4 linked regions of the Homo sapiens genome follow. The protein of the gene in region 4 purifies or fractionates together with the protein of the main gene of each other region. This does not show direct contact. Each region holds a gene or a part of one and is shown on either strand. Other genes may lie near its edges.

Evidence for each region. The genes of interacting proteins can lie anywhere in the genome.
Region 1: the proteins of SEH1L (region 4) and NUP188 purify together in Homo sapiens (affinity purification with mass spectrometry; one large-scale study listed by BioGRID and IntAct). This does not show direct contact.
Region 2: the proteins of SEH1L (region 4) and NUP98 fractionate together in Homo sapiens (co-fractionation; 3 studies listed by BioGRID and IntAct, with this or other methods). This does not show direct contact.
Region 3: the proteins of SEH1L (region 4) and NUP155 purify together in Homo sapiens (affinity purification with mass spectrometry, with the first as the bait; one large-scale study listed by BioGRID). This does not show direct contact.

What each region holds. Positions count from the first base shown.
Region 1 is NC_000009.12:129,003,199-129,006,782, reverse strand, and holds part of NUP188 (nucleoporin NUP188), read right to left. Parts: intron 3,467-3,584; coding exon 3,329-3,466; intron 1,637-3,328; coding exon 1,562-1,636; exon of another isoform or gene 1,486-1,561; intron 1,481-1,485; coding exon 1,253-1,480; intron 1,139-1,252; coding exon 1,007-1,138; intron 734-1,006; coding exon 660-733; intron 545-659; coding exon 415-544; intron 304-414; exon of another isoform or gene 282-303; coding exon 105-281; 3' UTR 1-104. UniProt on the Homo sapiens protein: Component of the nuclear pore complex (NPC), a complex required for the trafficking across the nuclear envelope. Required for proper protein transport into the nucleus.
Region 2 is NC_000011.10:3,699,971-3,703,554, reverse strand, and holds part of NUP98 (nuclear pore complex protein Nup98-Nup96 isoform 1 precursor), read left to right. Parts: intron 1-662; coding exon 663-1,092; intron 1,093-2,715; coding exon 2,716-2,945; intron 2,946-3,584. UniProt on the Homo sapiens protein: Plays a role in the nuclear pore complex (NPC) assembly and/or maintenance. NUP98 and NUP96 are involved in the bidirectional transport across the NPC. May anchor NUP153 and TPR to the NPC.
Region 3 is NC_000005.10:37,308,523-37,312,106, forward strand, and holds part of NUP155 (nuclear pore complex protein Nup155), read right to left. Parts: intron 2,222-3,584; coding exon 2,030-2,221; intron 1,051-2,029; coding exon of another isoform or gene 1,000-1,050; exon of another isoform or gene 901-999; intron 746-900; coding exon 607-745; intron 1-606.
Region 4 is NC_000018.10:12,953,486-12,958,693, reverse strand, and holds part of SEH1L (nucleoporin SEH1), read right to left. Parts: intron 3,232-5,208; coding exon 3,085-3,231; intron 1-3,084. UniProt on the Homo sapiens protein: Component of the Nup107-160 subcomplex of the nuclear pore complex (NPC). The Nup107-160 subcomplex is required for the assembly of a functional NPC.

The DNA of each region.
Region 1 (3,584 bases), on a different chromosome or scaffold from region 4:
GAGGTGCCCTCCATTGTATAGGCCCTAGCAGCCAGCAGCACCCCTGCCAGCCAGGGTGCAGTGTAGGCTGGTGGAGAGGGGTAGGTGGGCAGAACAGCACTGCCCTATCTTTGCATATGCCGGACAAACGCCTGCACCAACTGGATCAGAGGCTCCTGACTCTCAGGGCTGGCTTTGGAGAGAGAGGTGGACTTGCCCTGCGGCGAGGGGAGGACACCAGTGGCAGGGGAGCTGGGGGCTCCCCGGCGGAAGTAGCGCGAGAGGCTGGACAGCAGCGTGCTCTACAAGAAAAAAAGTGGCTTGGTGAGGCTCAGCACATCTGGCTACTGTTCTGACCCTTGGGGGTTGCCAGGCAGGACCCCACAGGGCTCTGGCCCTATTGGTCCAGCCCTCCGTATCCCTATCCATCCGTACCAACTCAGAGCTGAGCTCCTGCTTCATCCGCTGTTTGTCCCGGGGGTGCACAGCCGGGTCCCTAAGGTACCGCATCGCCTGAGAGATGAGCAGGTAGAAGCAGTTTTCCATGGTAAACATCAGGAGGGACCTGGGAGGAGACACAGGTTTTTGGTACTGCTGCAGAGGGCCAGGCTGGCCAAGCTTGAGAACAGTGGGCCCATGACTGCCCCAGCCCCTTATCAAATCCCAGAAAGAGCACTTACTTTAACGTCCTGGTCCCTTCTGCCTGTGTGCTGAGCCCCACTGCCTGGGTGAGGGGCTCCTTTTTCTTGTCCAGCTGAAGAGAAGCAAGGGTAAAAAACTAAGACAACAGGAACAGCTCCCACTTACTGAGAGCTTCCTACTTGCATGTCCTGCACTAAGCAAATTTAATCAGTTACCTCATTTAATCCTCACAGTAATTCTCAGAGGTGCTGTCATGTTCAGTTTACAGAGAGGAGCAGGCTTGGGAGGCTAGGTACCATGCCCAACATGCCCAAGGTCAGCTGGGAAGTGGCAGGCAGGGGGAGGAGCCGGGGGGAGAGGACAGTGTCTGACAGAACCAACTTACCTCTCCAAGCATGTTGAGGGCCACATTCACTGTGGCCAGAAGGGTCCCGAAGGAGGGGGCCACTTCGGAGTCAAAGGTGGGAGTGGTAAAGCTCAGGGCAAACAGGAAGTTGTATTCAGCAAGGTCCAGGGACTGCGAGAAAAGACAAGAGCCATCCAGGACCCAATTAAGGCCCCAGGTAGCTCTCGGTACACAGCAGAGCAGAGCCTTTAGGGGAGGTGGTGCTGAACAGATGATGGGCAGTACCTGATCCAGCAGAATCTGGCAGACATCTGGGGTGAAGTGGCGCAGGGCTGCCAGCGTCTTGCTGAGGATCTTGAGAAGGCCATACTGGACTGTGTGCAAGGCCTGCTGCTCTGATGCCTCTGTGTCAGCAGCGGGCTGCTTTGAGGAGGAGGGGGCAGCAGAAGCAGCAGACGGTGGCCTCTGGACTCGCTGGGCAACAGCTGAGGGGAGGCCATCCCCATTTTTGTTCTAAGGAGAGTCAAGAAATGAAGGTGGAGCTTGGGAAGCTAGCGTGAGGTATTCCAGGACCTCATGGCATAGGACGCTTACCTGTAAGTAATGCTGCAGCATCTTTCGACTGTGCAGGAGAGAGGTACATGCCTGGCACAAGTAACCCAGGTTGACCTGGGAGAGACACAGGAGAGATGAGCGGATTCTCTTGTCAGCAGCCCAGTCACCCAACCAGACCAACCCAATAGCCCTCCATGTAACACCCATGCGCTCCTCACTCGCTGCTGCTCTTCTCTCCCTCCTTCCCTCATGCTCCCCTTCTCTCCCTCCTTCCCTCATGCTCCCCTTCTCTCCCTCCTTCCCTCATGCTCCCCTGGCCACTTTCCAGCTTAAAGCCCCTATAGCCACTAAGTACTCAGGGCTACAAACTTGGGCCAGCAGGGCTCAGGACTGGACTGTCTCCCTGAGACCCAGCTAGGTGCCTGGTATATTGTAAGGTCCTAAAGTAAAGAAGATGAGGCCGGGTGCGGTGGCTCATGCCTGTAATCCCAGCACTTTTGAGGTCGAGGCAGGCGCATCACGAGGTCAGCAGATCGAGACCATCCTGGCTAACACGGTGAAACCCTGTCTCTACTAAAAATACAAAAAATTAGCCGGGCGTGGTGGCGGGCGCCTGTAGTCCCAGCTACTCGGGAGGCTGAGGCAGGAGAATGGCGTGAACCCGGGAGGCGGAGCTTGCAGTGAGCCGAGATGGCACCACTGCACTCCAGCCTGGGCGACAGAGCAAAACTCTGTCTCAAAATAAATAAATAAATAAAATAAGATGAGGATTATGGCTGATTCCATTTTATAGGAAAAGAATAAAAGGTTACAAGTAACAAGTGACTTGGCCAAGGTCATACAACCAGCAGATAAGAGAAGCCTGCCTGGCTCTGGAGCCTGTGTTCCTTCCTCACCCCTCCCTTCTCCAGCTGGTTCCCAGCTCCAGTTGTGTGTGTTTTTTTGGTTTTGTTTAGTTTAGTTTTTTTTTTTTTTTTTTGAGACGGAGTCTCACTTTGTCACCAGGCTGGAGTGCAGTGGCGTGACCTCGGCTCACTGCAACCTCCACCTCCTGAGTTCAAGCGATTCTCCTGCCTCAGCCTCCCGATCCTGAGTAGCTGGGACTACAGGCGTGTGCCACCACACCCAGCTAATTTTTGTTATTTTTAGTAGAGATGGGGTTTCACCATGTTGGCCAGCCTGGTCTCGAGCTCCTGACCTCATGATCCTCCCGCCTTGAATTCCCAAAGTGCTGGGATTACAGGCGTGAGCCTATTGCACCCGGCCATTTTTTTTTTTTTTTCTTTTTGGGACGGAGTCTCGCTCTGTCACCCAGGCTGGAGTGTAATGGTTCGATCCTAGCTCACTGCAACCTCCGCCTCCCAGGTTCAAGCGATTCTCCCAACTCAGCCTCCCGAGTAGCTGGGATTACAGTCACGTGCCACCACGCCCAGCTAATTTTTGTATTTTTAGTAGAGACAGGGTTTCACCATGTTGGCCAGGCTGATCTCGAACTCCTGACTGCCTCCCAAAGTGCTAGGATTACAGGCGTGAGCCACCATGCCCGGCCCCAAGTGTATTCTTAAGGGATCTGAACCAAGATCTAACTGATAAAAGTCCAAATTCTTAACCTACATGGCTGCCCTTGACTATGGAAGGAAACATTTAGCCAGAGTAAGCACATGACAGCAAACCCTGTGCTCCCCAAGGGAAAAGCCCCCGTTCAGGAACATCCTGCAATTCACTAGGAGTGCCCCAGTGAGACCTCACAGCCTCCCTGTCTCCAAGCATTACCCCAGACTCCAAGACACCATCTTGGGCCCCCACCTGGATATCACGCATGAGCTGAGGCAGGTGGAAGTGCCACTCCTTCATGAAGTTAGAGAGCTGCAGAATAAAACCCACGGTGTGGTCCGCCTCCTCCAGGCAGGCCAGACTCTGCACTGTCCTCACTGCGTTGAGGCACTGGGAGGAAAGCACACATCAGGGAAAGATGGGGATGGCTGAGGGACCTGACATACCCACACCTACCCTCCTGTGGAGAGGCAACGTCCCAGGCCCCCAAATGCTGAGTTGGCAAAGA
Region 2 (3,584 bases), on a different chromosome or scaffold from region 4:
TAGGAATGATAATAATGCTAATCATTTAAAAGTTTTTGAGGCCAAGTGCAGTGGCTCATGCCTGTAATTGCAGCACTCTAGGAGGCTGAGGCAGGTGGATCACGAGGTCAGGAGTTCAAGACCAGCCTGGCCAACATGGTGAAACTCTGTCTCTACTAAAAATACAGAAAAGTTAGCCAGGCATGGTGGCGGGCACCTGTAATCCCAGCTACTCGGGAGGCTGAGGCAGAGAATTGCTTGAACCCAGGAGGCAGAGGTTGCAGTGAGCCAAGATCATGCCACTGCACTCTAGCCTGGGCTACAGGGCGAGACTCTGTCTCCAAAAAAAAAAAAAAAAAGTTTTTGAAGAGTGAAATGAAATAACATATACAAATGACTTATACAGAGCCTGCTGCATATTTTTAAATAATATTAATAGTGTTGTTGCTTTTATTATTGTTGTAGATATCATCATCATCATTAGAATCTTGTCCTGATTTCCTAGTTCAAAGAGTAATTTCTGCAAAATCTGACTTAGCCTGCTTCTGGTCATCCACATCTGATATAAGTAGTTTGATTAAACATTGAATGATTTCAGCCTTACTGATTTTTGTTATTGTTCAAGAAACAATAGCTTGTGTTTTGTAATAGTCTTTCTCCCCTTCATTCCCGCTTCATTTCAGTTGGTGGGTTACTACAATCAAAATTTACAAGTGGAGCTTTTCTTTCACCAAGTGTCTCTGTGCAAGAATGTCGTACTCCCAGAGCAGCATCTTTAATGAATATCCCATCCACATCCTCTTGGTCTGTCCCTCCACCCCTGACTTCTGTGTTCACAATGCCCAGCCCAGCCCCTGAGGTTCCGTTGAAAACAGTGGGTACACGTAGGCAACTAGGCCTAGTCCCTCGTGAAAAGTCTGTCACCTATGGCAAGGGAAAACTCTTGATGGACATGGCCCTATTCATGGGACGCTCATTTCGTGTTGGTTGGGGCCCCAACTGGACTCTTGCTAATAGTGGAGAACAGCTGAATGGCTCTCATGAACTAGAAAATCATCAGATTGCCGATTCCATGGAGTTTGGATTCCTGCCCAATCCAGTAGCTGTTAAACCGTGAGTCACATTTCTTGATGCTTTTTGAGAAAGGCAACATGATAGGTGAAAAAAACTAATCAGGAGGATAGGGCCCTGCTTTGTCATCTTTCTAGAGAGAGAGAGAGAGAGAGAGAGAGAGAGAGAGAGAGAGAGAGAGAGAGAGAGAGTGTGTGTGTGTGTGTGTGTGTGTGTGTGTGTGTCTCAGTTTTGCTCTGTTTCCCCGGTGTGTGTGTGTGTGTTTTTGAGTCTCAGTTTTGCTCTGTTTCCCAGGCTGGGGTGCGGTGGCACGATCTCAGCTTGCTGCAACCTCTGCCTCTCAGTCTGAGGCTCTTCTCCTGCCTCAGCCTCCTGATAAGCTGGGATTACATGCACACGCCACCACACCCAGCTAATGTTTCCTGAGCTCAAGTGATTGTCCTACCTTGGCCTCCCAAAGTGCTGGGATTACAGTCATGAGCCACCTTGCCCAGCCTATCCTTCATTTTTAAAGTTGACTTTGAAAAAATAAAAAACAACCTGTAATCCCAGCACTTTGGGAGGCCAAGATGGGCGGATCACGAGGTCAGGAGATTGAGACCATCCTGGCTAACACGGTGAAACTCTGTCTCTACTAAAAATACAAAAAAAATTAGCTGGGCGTTGTGGCAGGCGCCTGTAGACCCAGCTAGTCAGGAGGCTGAGGCAGGAGAATGGTGTGAACCCGGGAGGCGGAGCTTGCAGTGAGCTGAGATCGCGCCATTGCACTCTAGCCTGGGCAACTGAATGAGACTCAGTCTCAAAAAAAAAAAAGAGAGAAAAGAAAAAGAAAAAACAACAATGTCTCTTGAACCTCACAATTAAGAATACTGATCCTAAACTTAGTTATTCTAGGTTAAGCATTATCTTGTGAATTTTGAAGGTTATTAATATCAATCTTAAAAATTAGATCAAGGGGCCGGGTACGGTGGCTCACACCTGTCATCCCAGCACTTTGGGAGGATCACTTGAGGTCAGGAGTTCGAGACCAGCCTGGCCAACATGGTAAAACCCTGTCTCTACTAAAATTACAAAAATTAGCCCAGGGTGGTGGTGCATGTTTGTAATCCCAGCTACTCAGGAGACTGAGGCAGGAGAATCGCCCTTGAACCCAGGAGGCAGAGGTTGCAGTAAGCCAAGATCACGCTACTGCATTCCAACCTCAGCGACAGTGTGAAACTCCATCTCAAAAAAAAAAAAAAAAAAAAAATTGGAACAAGCCTAGCTTAGCTATATGCTCATTGTAATTTAGAATCAGTTCTTTAGTATCTAGAAGCTTAGCCTCATGACTTTTGATACCCAAGTATAATTTGAGAAACAGGTATCCCACAATAGCTTTTGGCCCTTGAGTTTTAGCCAGTTCTAAATCTGTTAGGATTCTCATGCTTGTTATAACCTGGCCTAAGAAGCCTTTGTGTTCTGAATGCACTGATCAGATGATTTTTTTTCCCCAGTATATAGCAGATAAGTTCAGTATAGTTTAAGAAACAAAATTTCTTTAAAACTACAGTGAAATGTTTGCATTCCGTTTGTAATCATAAAAAGAAACAGTGGTTTGGTTGAAGTAAAAATCCTAGCTTCTGTCTTAGGTTCATTTTCTATTCTATTCCTCATTTGCTCTTGTAGCCTAACTGAGTCCCCATTCAAAGTTCACTTAGAAAAACTCAGTTTGAGACAAAGAAAGCCAGATGAAGACATGAAATTATATCAGACACCTCTGGAGCTCAAATTAAAACACAGCACTGTCCATGTGGATGAACTGTGTCCTCTCATTGTCCCCAATCTGGGAGTTGCTGTCATTCATGACTATGCAGATTGGGTTAAAGAAGCATCAGGAGACTTACCAGAAGCACAAAGTGAGTACACACTATGTTTCTAATGTTTGATGTCCCAATAATAGTGGTGGTAGCGTATGTTCACGGGAGGATGAATTTCCTGGCACCAGTCTAGTAGGTAAATGCCTGTGCTTGTCATTTTCTGAGGTTGAGTTTAACTAAGCAGATTCCCAAGCAAGAAGAAATTGTCACTATGTTCTTGTCACTTTGTTCTTTTACCCATTAATGTACAAATTCTTCCACAAAGAACTGTAGCAAGTCAAATCCTTGGATTTATAAAATTGAATTTCTTACCTAATCCAGAGAACATAGGGAGAGAAATACATTCCTTCTTGCTTTACTTTTTTTTTTTTTTTTTTTTTGAGACGGAGTCTCACTCTGTCACTGTAGCTGGGAGTATAGGCGCGCGCCACCACACCCAGCTAATTTTTGTATTCTTAGTAGAGACAGGGTTTCACCATATTGGCCAGGATTGTCTCGATCTCTTGACCTCGTGATCTGCCTGCCTCGACTTTCCAAAGTGCTGGGATTACAGGCGTGAGCCATCGAGCCCGGCCCCTTCTTGCTTTTCTAAATCCTATCCATTCTTCCATATCCAGCTCAAGTACTGTTGGTCTTCTCAACAGCTTTGTTGTAATTCCTCTTCCTGGCTTCTTTCAA
Region 3 (3,584 bases), on a different chromosome or scaffold from region 4:
CCATCTCTACTAAAAATACAAAAAAATTAGCCGGGCATGGTGGCAGGCGCCTGTAGTCCCAGCTACTTGGGAGGCTGAGGCAGAATGGCGTGAACCTGGGAGGCAGAGCTTGCAGTGAGCTGAGATCGCACCACTGCACTTCAGCCTGGGTGACAGAGCAAGACTCTGTCTCAAAATAAAAAAAATAAAAAAATAAAAAAATAAAAAATTAGCTGGGCGTGGTGGCGTGCGCCTGTAATACCAGCTACCCGGGAGGCTGAGGCAGGAGAATTGCTGGAACCTGGGAGGCAGAGGATGCAGTGAGCTGAGATCGTGCCACTGCACTCCAGCCTGGCTGACAGAGCGAGACTCTCAAAAAAAAAAAAAAAAAAAAAAAAAAGTACATTTCAAAAAATAGAAAGAACATTACAGCTTCTGCAGGTCAGTGTAGTCATCAAATATTGCAACACAATGATACCACATTCCTACGTCCTTTCACTCGGCCTCTGATGCTGAAAGAAGATTTGCATCTGGAAAGTGGCTTTTCATCATTAGCTTGCTTCATTCATACACTATTGTTTGTCTTTTGAGTTGAGTAAAAGATACAAGAAACATTTTATTTCTCACCTTGTCTATACTGAGCACAAACATTGGAAAGGTCCACTTGATTGCTAATTTTTTGATATTCCTTTAATGATTCCCTTAACATTCTTTCTTTTTCAGTCTTATTTTGAACTTGTCGGGAACGCTGGAGAAGCTCATTTGCCTAGAAGAGGAGATAACAAGAACTTAAAAATATATAAAATCAAGCAGACAGATGATGCTGTCAACTAAGTTTTAGTCTATGTCTAAATTTATATATGGTTATTACCATTAAAATGAAAACAACTCTACAAACTTACTTCTTAATTTTAGGCAGAAAAGTTTTTGACCAAAGATTCCTAGCTATTCTTAATTCCTCTCCCAAATATGTTAAGCAAGAGAACTTTTGTCTGGTAATTCTCTTGCCTAGTCAATACATTATTGGGCAGCAGGCAGTCCATGTGACACTGATTTATTTATTTTTTCCACCTGTAGGAAAGGATCAATAAAAATGCCCCCATTAACTCTAATTCACTAAAAGATTTACTTGAAGTTTTAGTACTTTTCCTTAAGCTAAGGAGATAAATTATCCCCTAAATTTCCTTAATTTCTAAATTTAGTGATTTTTCTTAATTTCTCACCTTTGGTTTTTTAATATGGCCTAGAAACACTATCAAAGATTCTTTATGGGCCAGGCGCAGAGGCTCATGTCTATAATCCCAACACTTTGCAAGGCTGAGGCAGGCGGAGGTCAGGAGTTCAAAACCAGCCTAGACAACATGGTGAAATCCTGTCTCTACCAAAAATATAAAAAATTAGCCAGGTGTGATGGTGCACACCTGTAATCCCAGCTATTTGGGAGGCCGAGGCAGGAGAATCACTTGAACCTGGGAGGTGGAGGTTGCAGTGAGCTGAGATCGTACTCAGTCTTAAAAAAAAAGAGAGAATATTCTTTATGAAAAACTTAAAGGAGGGCTGGGCATGGTGGCTCACACTTATAATCCCAGCACTATGGGAGGCTGAGGCAGGAGGATCACTTGAAGCCAAGAGTTCAAGACCAGCCTGTGCAACAAATCAGAACTTGTCTCTATAAAAAACAAAAAAATTGGCTGGGTGTAGTGGTGCACACCCGTAGCCCCTAGCTACATGAGAGGCCTGCTTGAGTCTAGGACTTAGAAGCTGCTGTGAGCTATGATCACAGCACTGCACTACAGCCTAAGCAACAGAGTGAAACCCTGTGTCAAATAAATAAATAAAAATATTTTTAAAAAGAAAAGCTAAGCTTAAAAGAGTATACACTGGTTTTAAGAAGCCACATATTCCAACCCCTTTCTTAGATGAGGATTCTGAGGCTAGGAGAGGTTAAGAGATCTAACTGACTGAGGTCCTATATTAAGTGAAACAAGATGGTTCATCATACATGATACCTCTTATAACAAACAATGAAATAGGTAATAAAGTATCATACCTTAGAACAAATTGCATCATCAGTGCTATATAGAAGTGGGCAGATATCCTGTAAATGTAAACTAATGCCATCAACAGCGGCATTATCTCTGATGTAGCAGTTGATAAGAGAAGCAATTAATGCCCCTGTGAGTTCTTTGTCCCTGATTACAAGATCTTTAAAGGTGGTGATCTTCAGCTGCTCTTGAAGTTCCTAGGAGCATAAAACTTTTCTATCACAATTATAGAAATACCATATTTCTAAACATAATGAAATTATTTTAATAAATTAAAATAACCTAAATATTAATAGACTCTATAATTGAAAAGCGAAAATATACTAATTAGTAGAAACAAATTTTTGCGAACTTACATAAAATCATAGAGAGTTGGAAAAGAACCTACAGTAGATCTAGTCCAAAACTCTCACTTTCCAAATGAGAAAAGTAAAGCTTAAGTAGAGCCAAAACTAGAGTCAGATCTCCTGGCTTTGGTTATAAAATGGAAAAAACAATCACTTGGCTATATTTGAAAATCTTGGGCTTACATATTACTCCTTCCTAAACACTGTTAGAATTCCATTATTCTAGGCCTTATAATAATATTGGAGTTTAATCTGTATTGTGAACAAATCTGCTTGTCCAAATGAAGCTCTAAAGTATTGATTTATACTATAGTAAAAGATTCTGTTAGTGATGTGACTGCTATCTCTTTTTTCTAAATTCAAGGAAATACCCAAACTGTGTTAAAATTCTTGAACAAATCTTTAATTTGCATTCATTGAGCATGCCATTGGTGATGTAAGGAAGAGAGCTTTGAAGATGGATCACAAAAACATACCCAGGATAAAAACCTACCTACAATATATTTATCACTCTATAAAACTCAAAATTATTATTCTACTTGGTATGAAAAAGATAAGTTTCATAATTAAATATATTAGCTTGAATTTTTAAAAATAAAAAACAGTATGTATTTAAAAGAAACAAAACCACCAACAAAAGCCACACTATTCATTGGACACTAGTGGAAAGAATGAGGAGACTGCCTTCCAACGTTGAAAAATGGTATACGAGAGTCAAAAAGTAAGTGTTTCAGAGTAATGAAATATCCATACAGGACAAGGAAAAAGAATTTTTTTTTTTTTTTTTACAGAATTGCAGCTAGTAACTGGGGAAGGAATCACAGATTTAAAATATTATCCTTTTGGCCGGGCATGGTGGCTCATGCCTGTAATCCCAGCACTTTGGGAGGCCAAGGCAGGTAGATCACCTGACGTCAGGAGTTCAACACCAGCCTGGCCAACATGGCGAAACCCGGTCTCTTACTAAAACTACAAAAATCAGCCAGGCGTTGTGGCACATGCCTGTAGTCCCAGCTACTCGGGAAGCTGAGGCAGGAGAACTGCTTGTACCCGGGAGGTGGAGGTTACAGTGATCTCAGATTGCTCCACAGCACTCCAGCCTGGGTGACAGAATGAGACACTGTCTCAAAAAAAATAAAAAACAAACAAACAAATAAATAAATATTACCCTTTTGTAATCCTAAATGAAATAATAAATTCCAGCAATGATTAT
Region 4 (5,208 bases):
ATAAAAAGGAATAAAGTTAATATATGCTACAAAATGGACAGACCATGAAAACATTTTACTTAGTGAAATAAGCCAGTTGCAAATGGACAAATACTGTGATTCCACTTACATGCAGTACCTAGTCAAATTTATAGACAGACAGTTGAATAGGGGGTAGAGGGAGGAGGAAGGGGGAGGCATTCTTTAAAAATATGGAGTTTATGTTGGCAGTGATGAACAGTTTTGAGTACAGATAACAGTGATGGGTACACAGCACTGTGAACGTAATTAATTCTACTGAATTATACCATTTACAAATAGTTAAAATGGGCCAGGCATGGTGGCTCACGCCTGTAATCCCAGCACTTCAGGAGGCCAAGGCAGGAGAATCATTTGAGATCAGGAGTTCGTGACCAGCCTGACCAACATGGTGAAACCCTGTCTCTTCTAAAAACACAAAAAAATTAGCCAGGCATGGTGGCACATGCCTGTAGTCCCAGCTACTCAGGAGACTGAGGCAGGAAAATCGCTTGAACCCCGGAGGCGGAGAATGCAGTAAGCCGAGATCCCACCACTGCACTCCAGCCTGGGTGACAGAACAAGACTCTGTCTCAAAAAAAAAAAAAAAAAAAAAAAAAAAAAAAAAAAAAGTTAAAATGAGGAATATTATGTTATACATATTTTACCACAATAAAAAATTGCATCATGGCCCTCGTAGTGGCTCACGCCTATAATCACAGCACTTTGGGAGGCCGAGGTGAGAGGATTGCTTCAGTCCAGGAGTTCAAGACCAGCCTGGGCAACATGGTGAAACCCCATCTCTACAAAATAAAAAAATCAGCCTGTGGTGCATGCCTGTGATCCCAGCTACTTGTGGGGCTAAGGTGGGAGGATCACTTGAGCCCAGGAGGTTGAGACTGCAATGAGCTGTGACTGGCTCTAACGTAGTATCATGCCATTAGGGAGGGCAGGTGAGGGGTAATAGCAGGACACTCCCACTACACACTTCCTTTTGTTTCTTTTGAATTTTACACCATGTGCATGATTATCTATTACAAAAAACAAATCATAAAGGGGGAAAAAAAGCATGCAGATGATAATACCTTCATATGAAAATGCTGGAAAGAGTCTTAAATATAATCTAGTTCAATGTTTTCACTTTATAGATGAGGAACTTCAACAGCACACAGATTATATTATGTTCTTGCCCAAATTCAAACATCCAATAAGGCAAAGACAGCGATAAAAGCAGATGTAGATAAAGGAGAGTGTATTTTTTTTTTTTTGAGACGAAGTCTCGCTCTTGTTCCCCAGGCTGGAGTGCAATGGCACGATCTCTGCTCATCACAACCTCCGCCTCCCGGGTTCAAGCGATTCTCCTGCCTCAGCCTCCTGAGTAGCTGGGATTACAGGCATGTGCCACCATGCTCAGCTAATTTTTGTATTTTTAGTAGAGGGGGAGTTTCTCCATGTTGGTCAGGCTGGTCTCAAACTCCTGACCTCAGGTGATCTGTCCATTTTGGCCTCCTAAAGTGCTGGGATTATAGGCGTGAGCCACCGCACCCGGCCGAGGACAGTATATTTCCTAAGAAAACAAAAGTAACCACAAAACAAAAGAAACAATTTTTATAGAATTTTTTTTTTTTTTGAGACAAGTCTCGCTCCGTCGCCCAGGCTGGAGTGCAGTGGCGTGATCTCGGCTCACTGCAAGCTCCGCCTCCCGGGTTCACACCATTCTCCTGCCTCAGCCTCCAGAGTAGCTGGGACTTACAGGCACCCACCACCATGCCGGGCTAATTTTTTGTATTTTTAGTAGAGACAGGGTTTCACCATGTTAGCCATGTTATTTATTTTATTAGGTGGGTATTTTCTGTAGAAAGAATTTGCAAGTAAAATGGTGGACTTACAGAATCTTTGTTTCAAAGGTTGGTTACGCTAAACTCTGAAGCAACTCTCCAACTATCAGCACTGGAAGTAGTCAAGTTTATCTGGCTAGATTTTTCTTTTATTAGTAAAATGTCAGAAGAACTGGACTTCAGAAGCATTACAATCCTAAATATAGAATGTCTTCTAAAGGTTAAAACATTCTGGAATTTAACTTTTTATTTACATGTTATGTTGATCAGTTTTCTTCTCTCATAGAAGTAAAACTATATTCTGTTTCCTGATGTAAAACCAGTGTTTATGAAATATGAATAAGTATTTAGGAAAAAAGAAGCCCTGGGATAATGAGTATCTGTTCTTTTCTTTTTTTTTTTTTGATTCCCCAGACACACAGTGGATCTGTATGGCGTGTGACATGGGCCCATCCTGAATTTGGCCCATTAAATTTATTTAAATTTAAATAAAATTTAAAGAATTTTATTAACCCTTGGCCAGGCGTGGTGGCTCACGCCTGTAATCCCAGCACTTTGGGAGGCCGACAGGCAGATCACGAGGTCAGGAGATCGAGACCATCCTGGCTAGCACAGTGAAACCCCGTCTCTACTAAAAATGCAAAAAATTAGATGGGCGTGGTGGCGGGCGCCTGTAGTCCCAGCTACTCAGGAGGCTGAGGTAGGAGAATGGCGTGAACCCGGGAGGCGGAGCTTGCAGTGAGCCAAGATTGTGCCACTGCACTCCAGCCTGGGTGACACAGTGAGACTCCGTCTAAAAAAAAAAAAAAGAATTTTATTAACCCTTAAGAGTTTAAAGTTAAAAAAAAAAAAGAATTTTAGAGTTAGGCACAGTGGCTCATGCCTATAATCTCAGCAACTCAGGAGGCTGAGGTGGGGCCAGGAGTTTGAGACTGCAGTGAGCCAGAATACTTTAAAATCATATATTACTATCATAAAATATACTAATAGGTAAAATCAAATACAATGCAAATATTCTGGATTCATCATAAAAGTTATAAACAATGCAGTGATGCTCCTAAGTATTGCTTCAGACCCAAGTTAAAATGAAATAAAAAAGGAAGAAAAAAACATGGAAGAAAGAACTTTAGAACTGGTAAAACTAGAGGGGAGTGGTGATATTTTACCAATTATCTGAGGTAGCCTTCGGATGAATGCTCCTTGGCTGCTCATGTCTTCCCGGTCCCCAGAATACTAATAAATGTCTCACCCAGTGGCTCTGTCCTCGCAGTTTATCATTTGATTCTCCTACTATTTCTTCCCATACAGCAGCTGTTCGGTCAAAAGAACAGGAAGCCAAAACCTGCCCAAATTCAGGATGGGCCCATGTCACACGCCATACAGATCCACTATGTGTCTGGGGAATCAAAAAAAAAAAAGAAAAGAACAGATACTCATTATCCCAGGGCTTCTTTTTTCCTAAATACTTATTCATATTTCATAAACACTGGTTTTACATCAGGAAACAGAATATAGTTTTACTTCTATGAGAGAAGAAAACTGATCAACATAACATGTAAATAAAAAGTTAAATTCCAGAATGTTTTAACCTTTAGAAGACATTCTATATTTAGGATTGTAATGCTTCTGAAGTCCAGTTCTTCTGACATTTTACTAATAAAAGAAAAATCTAGCCAGATAAACTTGACTACTTCCAGTGCTGATAGTTGGAGAGTTGCTTCAGAGTTTAGCGTAACCAACCTTTGAAACAAAGATTCTGTAAGTCCACCATTTTACTTGCAAATTCTTTCTACAGAAAATACCCACCTAATAAAATAAATAACATTAGATTTATTTGCTCCAAAATCCATACAGACAGAAAGTAGATTAGTGGTTACCAGCGGCTGGGAGCAGAGTAAACAAGAAGTGACTGCTAAATGAGCACAGGGTTTCCTTTAGAGGTGGTAAACAATGTTCTGAAATTAGAAGTGGTGGTGGTTGCCAATTAAATGAATATACTTAAAATCACTAAATTGTACACTTTAAATGGGTGCACATTATGATATGTAAATTATAGCTCAATCAAAAAAATACTTTTTTTTCATTTGATTCAACCAGGCATAGTGGCTCACGCCTGTCTTCTCAGCCCTTTAGGGGGCTGAGGTGGGCAGACTGCTTGAGCCCAGGGGTTCAAGACCAGTCTGGGCAATATGGCAAAATGCCATCACTACAAAAAATACAAAAAATTAGTCAGGTGTGGTGGTATGCACTTACGGTCCCAGCTGCTTGGGAGGCTGAGGTGGGAGGATCACTTCAGCCTGGAAGGTTGAGGCTGCAGTAAGCCAAGATTGTGCCACTGCACTCCAGCCTGGGTGACAGAGCAAGAACTTGTCTCCAAAAAAAAATTATTTGCTTCAAAAGTCTAACAATATATAGAGATTATAGCCATAGAATGCTTAAATGATTTTAACTGACAATACAGTCTATCGATAACAGACTATTGTAGGAAGAGCAAATATGGGGAAGCCCAAATCCTTACACCCCTCCTGTTGGCCAAGGGGTGGGAGGGGAGGTGGCTGGAGAAGGGATACAAAGGTCTTAAAGAATTTCACCATCAAAAGAATTTGCTAGGTGCTTCTCAGGGAAAATACTGTATAATAACAAATAACATTCAGAAAATGTGTTTCACACTGTATAGCTAACATTTTTTACATTCAACAACATAAAAATAGTTTAACCAATAACTTCTACATGGTAACAATGTCACCAACTAAAGGTACATTTTGCACCCTTTTTTTTTAACCTTGTTTTGTCCAGTCTTTTCTGTATCATCTTTAATTCTTACTTATACAGGGCTATAAAATTAAAAATGCACACTAAGGCAGATAAGTTTTATTAGATTTACAGTAAAATGCAATCTAAAGAATAAGGTTTGCACAAAGATGCTCATCACAATAAAATGGAAACTGAAATATCCACTAGTTAAGCAAAATGGTATATTTATTGGCTGTTAATAAAAAGCCTTTAAAGATATAGAAAAGTACATATGAAATATATTAGGCTTAAAAGCAAGAGATGGGGTTTCCTTTTGGAATAATAAAAATGTTTTAGAACTAGAAAAAGGTGGTAGTTACACAACACTGTAAATGAAGTAAATGCCAATTAATTGTTTACTCTGAAATTATTAATTTTATAAGTTAACCTCACCTTAAAAGGGGGGGGGACCTTGGATAGACCTTTCACAAAAGAAGATACATGAATGGTAAATAAGCATATGAAAAAATAATCAACATGAGGTATTAAGGAAATACAAATCAAAATCCAATGATTTTTGTGGTCACTTCTCAACTACTAAAATGGCTATAATAAAAAAGACAGATATTATCGAGTGTAG